Linked DNA regions of Homo sapiens. The protein of the gene in region 2 purifies or fractionates together with the protein of the main gene of each other region. This does not show direct contact. Each region holds a gene or a part of one and is shown on either strand. Other genes may lie near its edges.

Region 1 (5,609 bases), on a different chromosome or scaffold from region 2:
GGCCAGTGGAGCGCGGAGTGCAGCGGGCTGCGTGCGGAGGGCCGAAGGCCCCTCCAACTAGTAAGAACCCGGGCCCGGTTCTTTCCGAACCAGGATCTCACTCGAGCCTTGCGGCCGCGGGCTGACCCCGTGCGTTCTCCGACCCTCGTCCAGGCTGACTGGCCCCTGTGCCCGCAGGTCTGGTTCCAGAACCGCCGGGCCAAGTTCCGCAAACAGGAGCGCGCGGCCAGCGCCAAGGGCGCGGCGGGCGCGGCGGGCGCCAAAAAGGGCGAGGCGCGCTGCTCCTCCGAGGACGACGATTCCAAGGAGTCCACGTGCAGCCCCACGCCCGATAGCACCGCCTCGCTGCCGCCGCCGCCTGCGCCCGGCCTGGCCAGCCCGCGCCTGAGCCCCAGCCCGCTGCCCGTCGCACTGGGCTCCGGGCCGGGACCTGGGCCGGGGCCACAGCCGCTCAAGGGCGCACTGTGGGCCGGTGTGGCGGGCGGTGGGGGCGGCGGGCCTGGCGCGGGAGCGGCCGAACTACTTAAGGCTTGGCAGCCGGCGGAGTCCGGCCCCGGGCCCTTCTCCGGGGTTCTGTCCTCCTTTCACCGGAAGCCCGGCCCCGCCCTGAAGACCAATCTCTTCTAGCTGCCGGCCTCTGGAGGCTCCGAGCCTGCCCCCAGAGACGTCCCTGCCCCTCCAGGACCTGACAGCCCCTCCCATCCTGGCCACCCGCCTGGAAGTCCCCATCCGTCTCCACTCCCTACTGTCTCACCCCTCGGTGTGTCCTCCCCAACTTTGGAGACCAAGTCAGGGCCACTCTCGTCCTCACCCACCCTCTACCAGCAGAGCGGAGTTCTTTATACCGGGACCTCCTCCAGGAGAACCCCGGAGCTCCTTCTAGCTTGGCCTTCTTTGGATGCGGTATCACATGAGGCCTGTCCCTAACAGTGCCCTCAAAGTGAAGGTCCTCAAGGAGGATCGGCACAGCCCCCTTCCCTGGCTCTGCAGCGGCTGGGTCACCCCTTACGCTGGTGATCAGGAAAGCCCGCTGCCCCACCCCTCGGGCCCACCCGTACAGAGGCTGGTGGTCGCCGGGATAATTAATGACCACCGCCAATTCATCCCTCACGTGTCTCCTCTCTTCCCTAGCCCGTCTGGCACAGAGGGTGGACCTGTTAGAGGAGTGGAGGGGCTGCCTGGGGAATGGGACAGAGGGATTCTCTTTCCCTAATTTTTTTGGTTGTCCTTTTTCTTTGAAAAACTTGTAATTTATTGAAGTTTTACTCAATCCAAATAAAACTTAATTTATTGAAGACATCACGCCGCAACCCTTACGACTGCCCAGGAGGCTGCTTGCAAGACCCTGTCCCGGGCTGAGACCTGCGAGGAACCTCCCTCCCCCACCCTGCCGCCGTGCATCCCCAGAGCAGGGCAGCACAGACCAGGAGACAGTGAGAACTAAGCAAACTGGCACTTTATGGCTGAGATCCTGCCCCACCCCAACCAACCCCAATAATATTAAGGTGCTCTCCCTCCCCAGACCCACACAGAACAGTTTAAATAAACCCCAGCCCGGTCCTCGGGCTATTCCTTCATTTCCGGACGGACACCCGCCCCCACCCCCAGCGGGGGTGGGGAGGTCTTAGCGGAGCTCCTCCGCTGTGGTTCAGGCCCGGTGGAAGGCCGCAGAAACTGGTGAAAGTGGGGGCCCAGACGTACCCAAATGGACCCCCACAGGCACCCCTGGGGCTGGGAGGCGGGGTCCAGTAAAACAGGACAGCACCAGAGTAACCAGGGTCCTCGGTAACCATGGCAACTGACCTTCCGTCCTGAGCCTAAAAGGCGAGGGGCAGGATGCCCTAATTAGGGCATTGCAAATGATTGGGCAGCGGGGAATGCAGATCCCCAATAAATAGGCACCCCAATAAATAGGCAGAGAGATACTGCCCTGACCCTCATAACTTTTCAACCCTGGGGCCATAGCTGGGCCTTGGTAGCAGGGAGGGGCTCTGAGTTCACAGCTTCGTGGTGCCTCCGCTATCACTTGCTGAGCTGCAGGGTGTCCAGAAGGAGGCGCTTGTGAGCCGGGTCCTGCACCCCAGCCTCCTCCAAGTCCTCCTCGGTGATGTCACTGTGGAGTAAAACAGGCTGGGAAGTGAGATGGGCAAGGGGATCCTGAGGGCCCCAGCTCCGCCCCCGGGGCCAGCCCCTCCCCCACCTGAGAAACTCCAGGTCGTCCCAGCCATTATGCACCAGGCCCTCCTCATAGCGCTCCAAGCCGATGGCCCGCAGCCAGGCACTCATGCCTGCCTCGCCCAGCCCGCTGGCCCGCCCGCCCTGCAGGCACGGAGCCTAAGGAAACAGGGCATGTCAGGGGGAGCTGAGTGCCCCCCATAGAAACACCTGCAGTCACATTCTGCTGCATGCTCTGGGGAAAAGGAAGGGAAGGGCTGGGCTGATACATGTGTCTCCCAACTTCCCAGTGATCAGTTCAGGGTAGCAGGGACACCATGAGTGCTGAATGGTGGAGTGAAAGGGTACCAGTCTGTGGGCAAGCACACTCAGGCACACACAGACAGCCACCCTGCTCCACACACCTCCTCTGCCAGGTCTTCCTGGATGCTCTCCCGGATGCGGGGTGGAGGGAAGCTGAGGGGCCGGCCATAGTCCGAGGGCAGTCCCCGGGGGGGCTGCAGCTCCAGGGGGCCTGGGAGGAGCGCTGAGCGTGCAGGCCCAGCAGGGGCATAGTCCACCTCGCTCAGCGTCTTGGCCATCTGCAGCACCGAGCAGGACCGGTCATCCCCACTGGCCACTTCCCCCAGGAAAGTGCTGGCTGGTGAGGGGCCTGGGGGCAGTGGAGGCCTTGGATGGGCCTTGGGAGGTGGTGGGCCACGGGCCTCAGCCCCACCACGGCCCCGGACCACTGGCCCTGGTAAAGGATCCAGGCTGGGGGGCAGGAAGATGGCTGAGTCCGGCAGTGGTGGAGGTGGAAAGTCTGGAGGGGGCAGTGTGCCTCCAGACTCCTCATCTGAAGAACTCCCCTCTCCCACACGAGGGTGCCGGTGGTGCCCAAGCTGTGGAGCAGGCACTGTAATGGCCACTTTGTTCTTGGTGGCAGATGGGACAGGGGCCCTGGCAGGCGAGGGTGGCTCCGGGGGCAGCAGCTGGTGCGGGACCCCTTCAAGGACGTAGTAGGCAGGGTTATTGAAGCTGTTCTTGGGTGGGGGGGCCGCCACCCCTTCTGGTTCAGGAGCTCCCTCTGGCTTCAACCTGGGTGTGGAAGCAGAACGACTAAGCCAGGATCCAGGAACCCAGGTCTAAGGCAGTGGAAGCAGTGGAAGGAGAACTAGACGGGAGTCAGAAAGTCCCCTGGTCCTAGACTTTCTCATGACCTTGAGCACATCACCTGCCCTTAGTTTCTTCATCTCTAAAGGTCAGAGGGAGGATAACCCTTTGAATGGATAACCCTACAATCCCTTGCCTCACTTGCTAAGATACTTAGATCTTTCATGACTTTATCTGTAGCTGTGAAACCCAAGCTAAATGGGTCAGAATAGAGGTGCCAGAAGACAGGGCAAGAAGCCTCCAATGAGAGGCCAGGTTTGGAAAGCCTCTTGAGGCACCCACAGTCAATCCGCTGCAGAATCTTTCTCAGAGATTCAGGTGGGTCTTATTCAAGCCTAGGGATAAAACCGGGGTGACTGACAACAGCTGAAGATGAGTGAAAAAGCACCAAACTGTACCTAGGAGTTTATGTAAGTTTAAGCAACAATCGGATATAATTAGAAAGCAAGCCTCACTTTCCCAAAGTGTGACACAGAGCACTAATTCCCCAGAACGTTAATAGTTACTACATGGAAAATAAGTTTCCTGGCCCATTAAGTTTGGGAAACTATATTAAACAGAGCTGAAAAGAGGTTTCCTTCCTGTCCACATGCTCAGAGCTTTTGCTAATACTAACATGCACTGGGAATGTCTAAGAAAAGAATCTAGAAAAAGCATTTCCCAAACTCATTTGACCACAAACCCATTTCAACTGGGGCCTCTTGCAGGACAGAGTTCCAAAGAAGGTACCCTGGGAAATCCCAGGCCGAGCCATGTGCCTCCTCCAAATAGAAGGCTCAAGCTAGGTCTGTTTACATGGAGGGAGCTGTCTTAGAAACAATTTCGCATTCCATTTTTAAAGGCAGAATTGAGAGGAAAGGCTGACTGCTCCCTTTGACTCAGAGCCACAGCTAAGGGTGGCCTGGCTGGCCACAGGCATAAGGCCATGGCAGCTCCAACCACAGAGTGGCAGGGCACCTAAGCAGCTGATGATCTCCAGGCCAACCCTGAGACCCTGCAGGGGATAGTGATGGATAGAGGTGGGTGGGGGAAGGGGGGGCGGTGACAGGTTCCTCCTCTCACCTGGGGGTCAAGGGCTCCTCCCGGGGAGCTGCTCGGGGTGGGGCTGGGGGCCTCCCCGTTGGTGGCGGTTTCTCTGGTTCTTCAAATAACCTGGAGAGCGGGCAGGAGGCCTCTGTGAAGGCTGGCTTGCGGCTCCCTGACCTGCCAGGGATGCACAGGAGAGAGATGAAGTGGGGTTGACCAGATGCCCCCAGGTACCCTTTCATATGACATTCAACACAGCCCTAGCTCACCTGGGCTCCTGGCTCCCTCGGGACACAGAGGGGGCTTTGCTCTTTGCTCCTGCCTCATCCTTATCAATGCTGATCCACTCTGAGGGGGCAGGAAGGGAGACTCAGAGGAGACCTGGGCTCCTGGATCCCACAGACACCCAGTGGGCCTGCCAGCCCTTTCCCAGCTATGCCTTGGGGCAGGACTATTCCCAGCTGTGGCTGCAGAACCTCCAGGTATCCCAGAGATTCCAACATGCCCCCCGCACCCTGCCCTCCTTGATCTGTTCACACCACCCTATCTCATGTCCCAGTGGAGTCCCCACCGTAGAGCCGCTCACGGGTGCCCAGGCGCTCCGTGGGCACCCGCACCTTCATGGAGCCTCTGATATTGCCTGTCTCCTCGCCACGGTGGGATAGGAAGGTCAGGAACTGTTGGGCCGTGCTGCCGATCATGGATTTGAGTGCAACCACACACTCCCCTGAGGAGCAGATGGGACAAACCAGCAAATTACCAAGCTAATCTAGGGCCCTGTCTGGCTTCCTGTTCCCCTCAGCACCCCTCACCCCTCACCATAGGATTCATAGCCATCCATGGACTTGACTGTGAGCAGGAGGTGCTGGTCCTGCAGGTACTCGATATCAGCCAGAATTGGTTTGAGCTGGGAAGCAGGGAGGCCCAGTGAGGAACAAAGCCCCGCCACTTCCTCCTGCCCCTCCTACGCGCTGCCCCCTGACACCACTCAATCCCCACCCTCAGGTCATCTGTGCTCACTCACACTCAACTCTTCAGAGAAGAGCCAAATCCTTAATGCAGAAGACACAGCCCTATACAGGCCTTTTACAGCACCTAGCATCACTGTAACTAATTAATTTTCTCAATAGCTAACACAGGACCTGACATCTAGCAAAAGCTCAAGAAGCATCTCCTGAATGAATGAACAAACTGCAACAAGGTTCCACACTCCCAAAATAAAGCAAACGCCTTTATCCTCACTCATGCCCATGCCC
Region 2 (8,456 bases):
CCTCACAACATCCAAAAGTGTTAGCAGCGAACATGGCTTCATTCCCAGAAATGGATGCCTTTAAGACCAAACAAAGAGGCCACTTGTGCCTGACTCCCTCCCCTTCCCGGCCCCACAACAGGCAGACCAACTCATGTCCCCACTCCCCGCCAACCCCGGGGAATAGTCAATAACTTATGAGGCTAATACCAGAGACTTTAAAAATTAAATATGGTACAAATATATTCTCAAAACTCTGTCATCTCAGTTCTTTTTTTTTTTCCTTTTTCCATTTTGTTTTTTCTTTCTTTTTCTTTTTTTTTTTTTAATGTCCTAGCTTGGTTTGGTCTTGAAAAGATTCATAATCACTCCAAATGAAATGCTCCTCCCTTGGCCACCAATGTGAAGGGAGGGTAGAAACCTGAGGCTAGACTTCTGACACAAGAAGAATCTGTCGAGAGCACAGTCTCCCAGTCAATAAGAAGGAAGGAGAGAGGGGGATGAGCTCGCACCCTTGAGAAGAACCTTCATGAGCCAATTCCCAAAGCATCAACTCCGCATGGATACTTTGCACACACATCAGCCGTGTCTAATGGACACACACACGTGCATACACACGTGAGCACACGCCGGGACCACAGACCCTTATCCAAAATATGAAAGCAGCAGCTATTGGTCAATTTGAGGAACTCATTTTGTAAAGAAAAAAAAAATCCTTCAGCCTGGATGAGAGAAAAAAAAAAAACCAAAAAAACCATCTTGAAGCTCAACCTGTAAAACTTGAAATTCTCCTGGAACAGGGCTGGGTGTTTTTGTTTTGTTTTTTCTTTCGAACTTTTGTTCCACAAACAGGAAGTTTTGTCTTTTATACTGAAGCTCAGACACCAGCAAAAAAAAAAAAAAAAAAAAAGAATTTGTAAAAACAGGTGCTTTCTTTCCATCTGCTGGGGGCGGGTGGGGGGAACGAAAAAACACAAAATCCTGGTTTGAAACCGTCGTTGCCCCAAAGGAGCAGCAACTGTGGAAACCCCTTGCCCTCCAGGTTCACAGTTAAATCCTCTGCAGGACTAGTTAAATTGGTAACCAAACGAGTCCACCTTAAGATGAACAGAAATGTATAGGAACGATCTCTGAACTCCATTGGACATGGTAGAGTCGTGAGAATCCTGAGTTTTCCAGAGGCTTTCAAACCAGAGGAAAGCGAAAATGGGAACCCCTGCCCGCCCCCGCCACGGTAGGCACTGTTAGGAAGGATTGGACCGAGGCAAGGTCAGAATCCGCCCGTTTTTCTTGCCTCCGTTCATGTGTGTGTAAGGGATGTGTTCCTCGTAGCTCCGCTTGAAACCCAGCGAGGACCCTCCATCCCGGCCCCCCGCCTCCTCCCTCTGACAGTGCGAGGAACGGTCCAGGGGCACATTCTCCATGTCCTCAAACTCCATCTCCAGCTCCTCACTCTCGGGAGCCTTGTTCTCCTCGCTGTGGAAGAACGACACCTCTGGAAAGCTGGGGTGCAGGTCGTCCTTGAGCAGGTTGACAATCTCCAGGAAGGTTGGCCTCATCTTGGGGTTGAATTGCCAGCACATGCGCATGAGGTCAGTGCTGCGGGGCAGAAGGACACGTCCTGGGTGAGTCTGGGGGCCCTGCCACGCATCCTCCCAAACCCCCACTCTTGTCCCTGCAGCCGACACCCACGGACCACATGTGCTCACATCAGATGCTGGCTGTGTGTGTGGACAATTGTCAAGGCAGAAATAGCATTGCTAGAGGTGCTGAGAGATGGTGTTTTCTTTTTGCTTTTCTTCTTCTTATTTTGGACACAGCGTCTCATTCTGTCACCCAGGCTGGAGTGCAGTGGCATGATCATAGCTCACTGCAGCCTCTGCCTCCTAGGCTCGAGCAATCCTCTCACCTTGGCCTCCCAAGTAGCTGGGACCACAGGTGTGCACCACCATGCCTAGCTAATTTTTGTATTTTTTGCAGAGACAGGGTTTTGCTATGTTGCCCAGGCTGGCCTCAAACTCCTAGGCTCAAATGATCCACCCACCTTGGCCTCCCAAGGTGCTGGGATTACAGGTGTTAGCCACCATGCCTGGCCGCTTTTTTTTTTTTTTGAGACAGGGTTTCTCACTTTGTCACCCAGGATGGAGTGCAGTGGCGCAATCATAGCTCATTGCAGCCTTGAACTCCTGGGCTCAAGCCATCCTCCTGCCTCAACCTCCCAAAGTGCTGAGGTTCCAGGCATGAGCCATCCTGTCCAGCCTGAAAGATGGTTTTGAAAAGGGATTCCTCATTTCAAAACTGGCTCAAGAGTAATCCCAGCACTTTGGGAGGTTGAGCCAGGAGGCTGAGTCCAGGAGTTCAAGGTTGCAGTGAGCTGTGATTGTGCCACTGCGCTCTACCAGCCTGGGTGACACAGCGAGACTTCATCTAAATATATATATATGTACATATGCATATATATTTGGAGGGGGGAATATATAATATGTATGCCTGACAAAATTTTTGTGTGTCTGTGTTTGTTTTTGAGACAGAATCTCACTCTGTCACCCATGCTGCAGTGCAATGGTGCAGTCTCTGCTCACTGCAACCTCTGCCTCCCCGATTCAAGCAATTCTCCTGCCTCAGCCTCCTGAGTAGCTGGGATTACAGGCGCCCACGACCGCGCCTGGGTAATTTTTATATTTTTAATAGAGGCGGGGTTTCACCATGTTGGCCAGGCTGGTCTTGAACTCCTGACCTTAGGTGATCGTTCACCTCGGTCTCCCAAATTGCTTGGGATTACAGGCGTGAGCCACCCATGCCCAGCTACCTGACAAAATTTTAAGTGTATAAAGAATTAACAGGCGGCTGTAATCCCAGCACTTTGGGAAGCCAAGGTGGGTGGATCACGAGGTCAGGAGATCGAGACCACGGTGAAACCCCATTTCTACTAAAAATACAAAAAAAAAAAAAAATTAGCCAGGCGCGGTGGTGGGTGCCTGTAGTCCTAGCTACTCGGGAGGCTGAGGCAAGAGAATGGTGTGAACCCGGGAGGCGGAGCTTGAAGTCAGCCGAGCTCGCACCACTGCACTCCAGCCTGGGTGACAGAGCAAGATTCCGTCTCAAAAAAAAAAAAAAAAAAAAAAAAATTAACAGGCAAACAGGTCTCTCTCCCCCAACCCCAGGTCTCCAGTTCCCTTCTCCCAAGATAACTACCGCTATAGGTGTTTTGTGCAACCTTCCAAAGATACAATATGCAAGAAAATCATATGATTTGTGAACACAAGCAGGCAGGTAAAGACATAATATGTAAACATGTGTGCTTATAATATGTAAATGAGGTGTACATGTGCCATGATATGCTGATGCACACAGAAACATATAATATGCAAACATAAATACCTATGTAAATATATAATATGCAAACGTAAGCGTACATGTAGCACATATGGGAACTCAAGTGTGTGTACCACAATGCAATATGCAAATGCAAGCATGCATGTAAAGACAAGCTATGCAAACACAAACACACCTGTAACATACAGCATGCAAACACGGTGAGCGTGTAGACATAGGAAAGGCAAAACCAAGCACACGTGTAAAGGGCAATACCCTTTCAACGAACACCTCACACACCTTAAACCCTTTCTACACTTACACTCTCTCTGGACAGTTGTCGGGTTGATCCAGATACCCTCCATCCATGACAAATTTCAACACCTGTTCATTAGACAGGCCTTGGTAAGGCTGTTCTGCCAAGCTGGTGATTTCCCAAAGGACCACGCCAAAGGACCTGCCGATGACAGTTGATAGTAGTAACAAAGAAGCCATTTAGACACACACACACACGCGCGCGCGCAAACACACACACGCAAACGCACACACACACGCAAACACACATGCCAACACATACATGCAAACACACACATGCAAACACACACGCACATACACGTGCACACACATGCAAATACACACAAACACGCATGCGCACACATGCACACACAAATATGCAAACACACAAACACATATACACACACAAACACACACACCCAAACACACACACGCACACACATGCAAACACACACAAACACACATATGCACACACATACACACACAAACACACACACAAACACATCTCTTGGTTTCTAGAACATGGTTAGCCACTTAATAAAACAATTCATGCTGCAGTTCATAAATGCTGTGAAAGGAAAATCAATTTGGGGCTCCCAAATCACTAAACTCAAGGAAAAAGTCCAGCTAGGAACTGCTTGGACAAACCTGCTTCCCATTCTATTCAGAGTCCCCACTCTGCTCACTGAGATACCTGCATATCTGATTGGCTCCTTTGGAGAGGCGCATCAGAAACTCAAAAGAATGCAACCATTTGTCTCTTATCTACCTACAACCTGGAAGCTCCCTCCCCACTTCGAGTTGTCTCGTCTTTCCAGACCGAACCAATGTTCATCTTATATATGTTGACTGATGTCTCATGTCTCCCTAAAATGTATAAAACCAAACTGTGCTCTGACCACCTTGGGCACCTGTCCTCAGGACCACCTGAGGCTGTGCCACGGGCACACGTCCTCAACCTTGGCAAAATAAACTTCCTAAATTAACTGAGACCTGTCTCAGATTTTCGGGGTTCACAATGCCTACAGGATTAGTCAGGACATAAGAGTAGCCGTGGGAAGATCCTAAGACAGGACGCTGCCTTCCTTTCCTTGATGGGGCGTCCAGGAGGATGGCAGGCTTCCTTCCCCCGCTCTTGGCTCTCACTAGCACCTGGAATTCAAGCCCAGCGTCCATCCACCCATCCACACACAACTCACCACATGTCAGAAGAAGTGGTGAAGACCCCATCCTTCAGGGACTCCGGTGCCATCCACCGTACAGGGAGCAGACCCTTGCCCCCTTTCCGGTAGTAATCCGTTTCATAGATGTCTCTGGTCATTCCAAAGTCTGACAACACAAAAGGTTCACACGCTCTTAACCTTCAGCCTTGGTCCTAGCATCTGCCACCTTGACTGCCCCACCTCTCACAGAGCCCTAAGAGGGGTTCACCTGGCCCACGTCTGCGCTCACCTGGGTGGTGGCCAAATCCAGTAAGAATGGATTCTGAGGGTACGCATGGGGAAGTGAAGGGGGAAGATGGGCTACTGTTTAAAGGGAGGGAAAAGAAGGTACCAAATCACAAAGAAGCTACATTTTTCTTTTTTTTTTTCTTTGATATGGAGCCTCACTCTGTCCTCCAGGCTGGAGTGCAGTGGTGCAATCTTGGCTCACTGCAACCTCTACCTCCCTGATTCAAGCAATTCTCTTGCCTCAGCCTCCTGAGTAGCTAGGATTACAGCTGTCTGCCACCATGTCTAGCTAATGTTTTGTATTTTGAGTAGAGACAGGGTTTCACCGTGTTGACCAGGCTGGTCTCGAACTCCTGATCTCAGGTAATCTACCCACCTCAGCCTCCCAAAGTGCTGGGATTACAGGGGTGAGCCACCGCACCTGGCCAGGAGATGTCTTTTTGAGTCATAAATAGAATCATATCACTTCCTGCTGCCCCTTGCTAATGTAAGATAATGTCGAGATGACTTGCTGTGACACGCAAGGTCCTTCTGGGTCTGGTTTCTGCCTCTCTCCTCATCCTCACATCTCACGCTGCTCTGGTCCCCTCTATATTCCTTTTTTATTTGTTTTTTGAAATAGCGTCTCACTGTCACCCAGGCTGGAGTGCAGTGATGCTGTCACAGCTCACTGCAGCCTCCACCTCCTGGGCTCAAGCAATCCTCCCACCCCAGCCTCCTGAGTAGCTGGGACCACAGGTGTGCACCACCACACCCCACTTTTTAAAAAATCTTTTCAAGGAGATGGAGTCTCACTATGTTGCCCAGGCTGGTCTCAAACTCCTGGACTCAAGCAGTCTTTACACATTGGACTTCCAAAGCACTGAGATTACAGGCGGGACCCCCGGTCCTACAAACATATCTTTTAAAGAAGTGAATGGGTAAGTGAGTTTATCAATACATGCAATTAAATGACAGCTGGTGGGGGGTCCCCATCCAAAATCTTGCCCAGCCAGGCACAGTGGCTCATGCCTGTAATCCCAGTGCTTTGGGAGGCCAACACAGGTGGATCATATGAGGTCAGGAGTTTGAGACCATCTTGGCCAACACAGTGAAACTCCGTCTCTACTAAAAATACAAAAAGTAGCTGGGTGTGGTGGCGCACGCCTGTAATCCTAGCTACTCAGGAGGCTGAGGCAGGAGAATCGCTTGAACCCAAGAGGTGGAGGTTCAGTGAGCCGAGATCCTGTCACTGCACTCCAGCCTGGGCGACAGAGCAAGACTCCATGTCAGAAAAAAGAAAAAAAAAAAAAGCCGGTGCAGTGGCTCACGCCTGTAATCCCAGCACTTTGGGAGGCCGAGGCAGGAGGATCACGAGGTCAGGAGATCAAGACTATCCTGGCCAACATGGATGAAACCCCATCTCCACTAAAAATACAAAAATTAGCCAGGCATGGTGGCGCACACCTGTAGTCCCAGCTACTTGGAAGGCTGAGGCAGGTGAATCACTTGAACCTGGGAGGTGGAGGTTGCAGTGAGCTGAGATCACACCACTGCACTCCAGCCTGGGCAACAGACAGAGTAAGACTCCGTCTCAAAAACAAAAAGACAAAACAAAACAAAAAAAACCCCACAAAAAAAAAAGAAGTATCTTGCCCCTTTATATTATCAGAAAAGACTTAACGGCTCATTATAGACAACTTCCTTCTGAAATCAAACCTGGCCTGGGTCGTTATGTTTTCAAAGCAGAAAGCCAGACGAACCTCCAATTTTGACAGTAAAATCATGGGCGACCATGCAGTTTCTCGCTGCCAGGTCCCGATGCACAAACTTCTTGGCGTTCAGGTAGGCCATCCCGTCAGCAATCTCTGCCGCCATCTGAATCATCTCTTGAAGGGTAGGGGGAGGGCGGCCAGGATTATTCTAAAACAGAAACACGGGGTTGGTGTTTCAGCAGCACTGGGATCCGAGGAGGCCAGGAGCGGGTGCTCCACCGAGTACCCCGCTGGGTCCCCCGAAGCAGCTTACCTCAGCCTCTGGCCGCAGAGAACGGAGGTAGCTCTTCAGGTCTCCGTGAGCCATCAGCTCCATCACCACCAGCGTGGGCTGGCCCTTGGACACCACTCCCAGGAGGCGCACCTGCAGAGCAAGCAACCAGGGTTCTTGGAGGAGGGTCCGTGATTCGACTCACCAGGGTTCTCCTCCCTCCCTGGTGTCTATGTCACACACAGCACCCTGTGGCCTGGATGCAGCGTGCTCAGCCCTGGTCTAGGAGAGCAGACATACCTGCCCGGACAGCAGACAGATAGGCCTTTGTATTTTTTTTTTTTTAATTTTCGAGACGGAATCTTGCTGTTACCCAGGCTAGAGTGCAGTGGCGTGATCTCGGCTCACTGCAACCTTTGCCTCCCGGGTTCAAGCAATTCTCCTGCCTCAGTCTCCCGAGTAGCTGGGGTTACAGGTGCCCGCCTCCACACCCGGCTAATTTTTGTATTTTTAGTAGAGACAGGATTTCTCCATGTTGGTCAGGCTGGTCTTGAACTCCTGACCTCTGGTGATCCGCCTGCCTCAGCCTCCCAAAGTGCTGGGATTATAGCCACTGCACCCAGCCAGGCCTTTGTATTTTAATCATTCCCTCTGCCTGGCTCTCTGTTCCCTGCCACATCCACAGGGCCCAGCTCCTCATGTCCTCTAAGTCTTTGCTCAAATACACCCCTGTCCAACCCTCCTTTCCTCCCTTTCTTCATGTTTCCATAGCATTTGCTCCTAATGTATAAAGGGTTTGGAGTCAGCTGGGGGTGGTGGCTTATGCCTGTAATCCCAGCACTTTGGGAGGCTGAGGCCGGTGGATCACCTGAATTCAGGAGTTCGAGACCAGCCTGGCCAACATGGCGAAACCCCATCTCTACTAAAAATACAAAAATTAGCTGGGTGTGGTGGTGGGCTCCTGTTATCCCAGCTACTCAGGAGGCCGCGGCAGGAGAATTGCTTGAACCTGGGAGGCAGAGGTTGCAGTGAGCCGAGATTGTGCCACTGCACTCCACTCTGGGCGACAGAGAGAGACTCTGTCTTAAAAATATATAAAAATAGGCTGGGCGTGGTGGCTCACGCCTGTAATCCCAGCACTTTGGGAGGCCAAGGCAGGCGGATCATGAGGTCAGGAGATCGAGACCATCCTGGCTAACACAGTGAAACCCCGTCTCTACTGAAAATACAAAAAAATTAGCCAGGCACTGGGCGTGGTGGCTCACGCCTGTAATCCCAGCACTTTGGGAGGCCAAGGCGGGTGGATCACGAGGTCAGGAGTTCAAGACCAGCCTGGCCAGCATGGTGAAACCCCGTCTCTAATAAAAAAAAGTATAAAAAGCATTAGCTGGGCGTGGTGGCAGGCACCTGCAGTCCCAGCTACTCGGGAGGCTGAGGCAGGATAATTGCTTG

Evidence for each region.
Region 1: the proteins of INSR (region 2) and INPPL1 purify together in Homo sapiens (affinity purification with western blotting, with the first as the bait; 2 studies listed by BioGRID). This does not show direct contact.

What each region holds. Positions count from the first base shown.
Region 1 is NC_000011.10:72,234,767-72,240,375, reverse strand, and holds the end of INPPL1 (phosphatidylinositol 3,4,5-trisphosphate 5-phosphatase 2), read right to left. Parts: intron 5,261-5,609; coding exon 5,173-5,260; intron 5,081-5,172; coding exon 4,925-5,080; intron 4,702-4,924; coding exon 4,623-4,701; intron 4,531-4,622; coding exon 4,390-4,530; intron 3,253-4,389; coding exon 2,580-3,252; intron 2,335-2,579; coding exon 2,201-2,334; intron 2,114-2,200; coding exon 2,023-2,113; 3' UTR 1,229-2,022; downstream 1-1,228. Other genes in the region: PHOX2A (paired mesoderm homeobox protein 2A), read left to right, coding at 94-627. UniProt on the Homo sapiens protein: Phosphatidylinositol (PtdIns) phosphatase that specifically hydrolyzes the 5-phosphate of phosphatidylinositol-3,4,5-trisphosphate (PtdIns(3,4,5)P3) to produce PtdIns(3,4)P2, thereby negatively regulating the PI3K (phosphoinositide 3-kinase) pathways.
Region 2 is NC_000019.10:7,115,833-7,124,288, forward strand, and holds part of INSR (insulin receptor isoform Long preproprotein), read right to left. Parts: intron 7,158-8,456; coding exon 7,047-7,157; intron 6,942-7,046; coding exon 6,782-6,941; intron 4,918-6,781; coding exon 4,788-4,917; intron 3,752-4,787; coding exon 3,617-3,751; intron 1,579-3,616; coding exon 1,224-1,578; 3' UTR 1-1,223. UniProt on the Homo sapiens protein: Receptor tyrosine kinase which mediates the pleiotropic actions of insulin.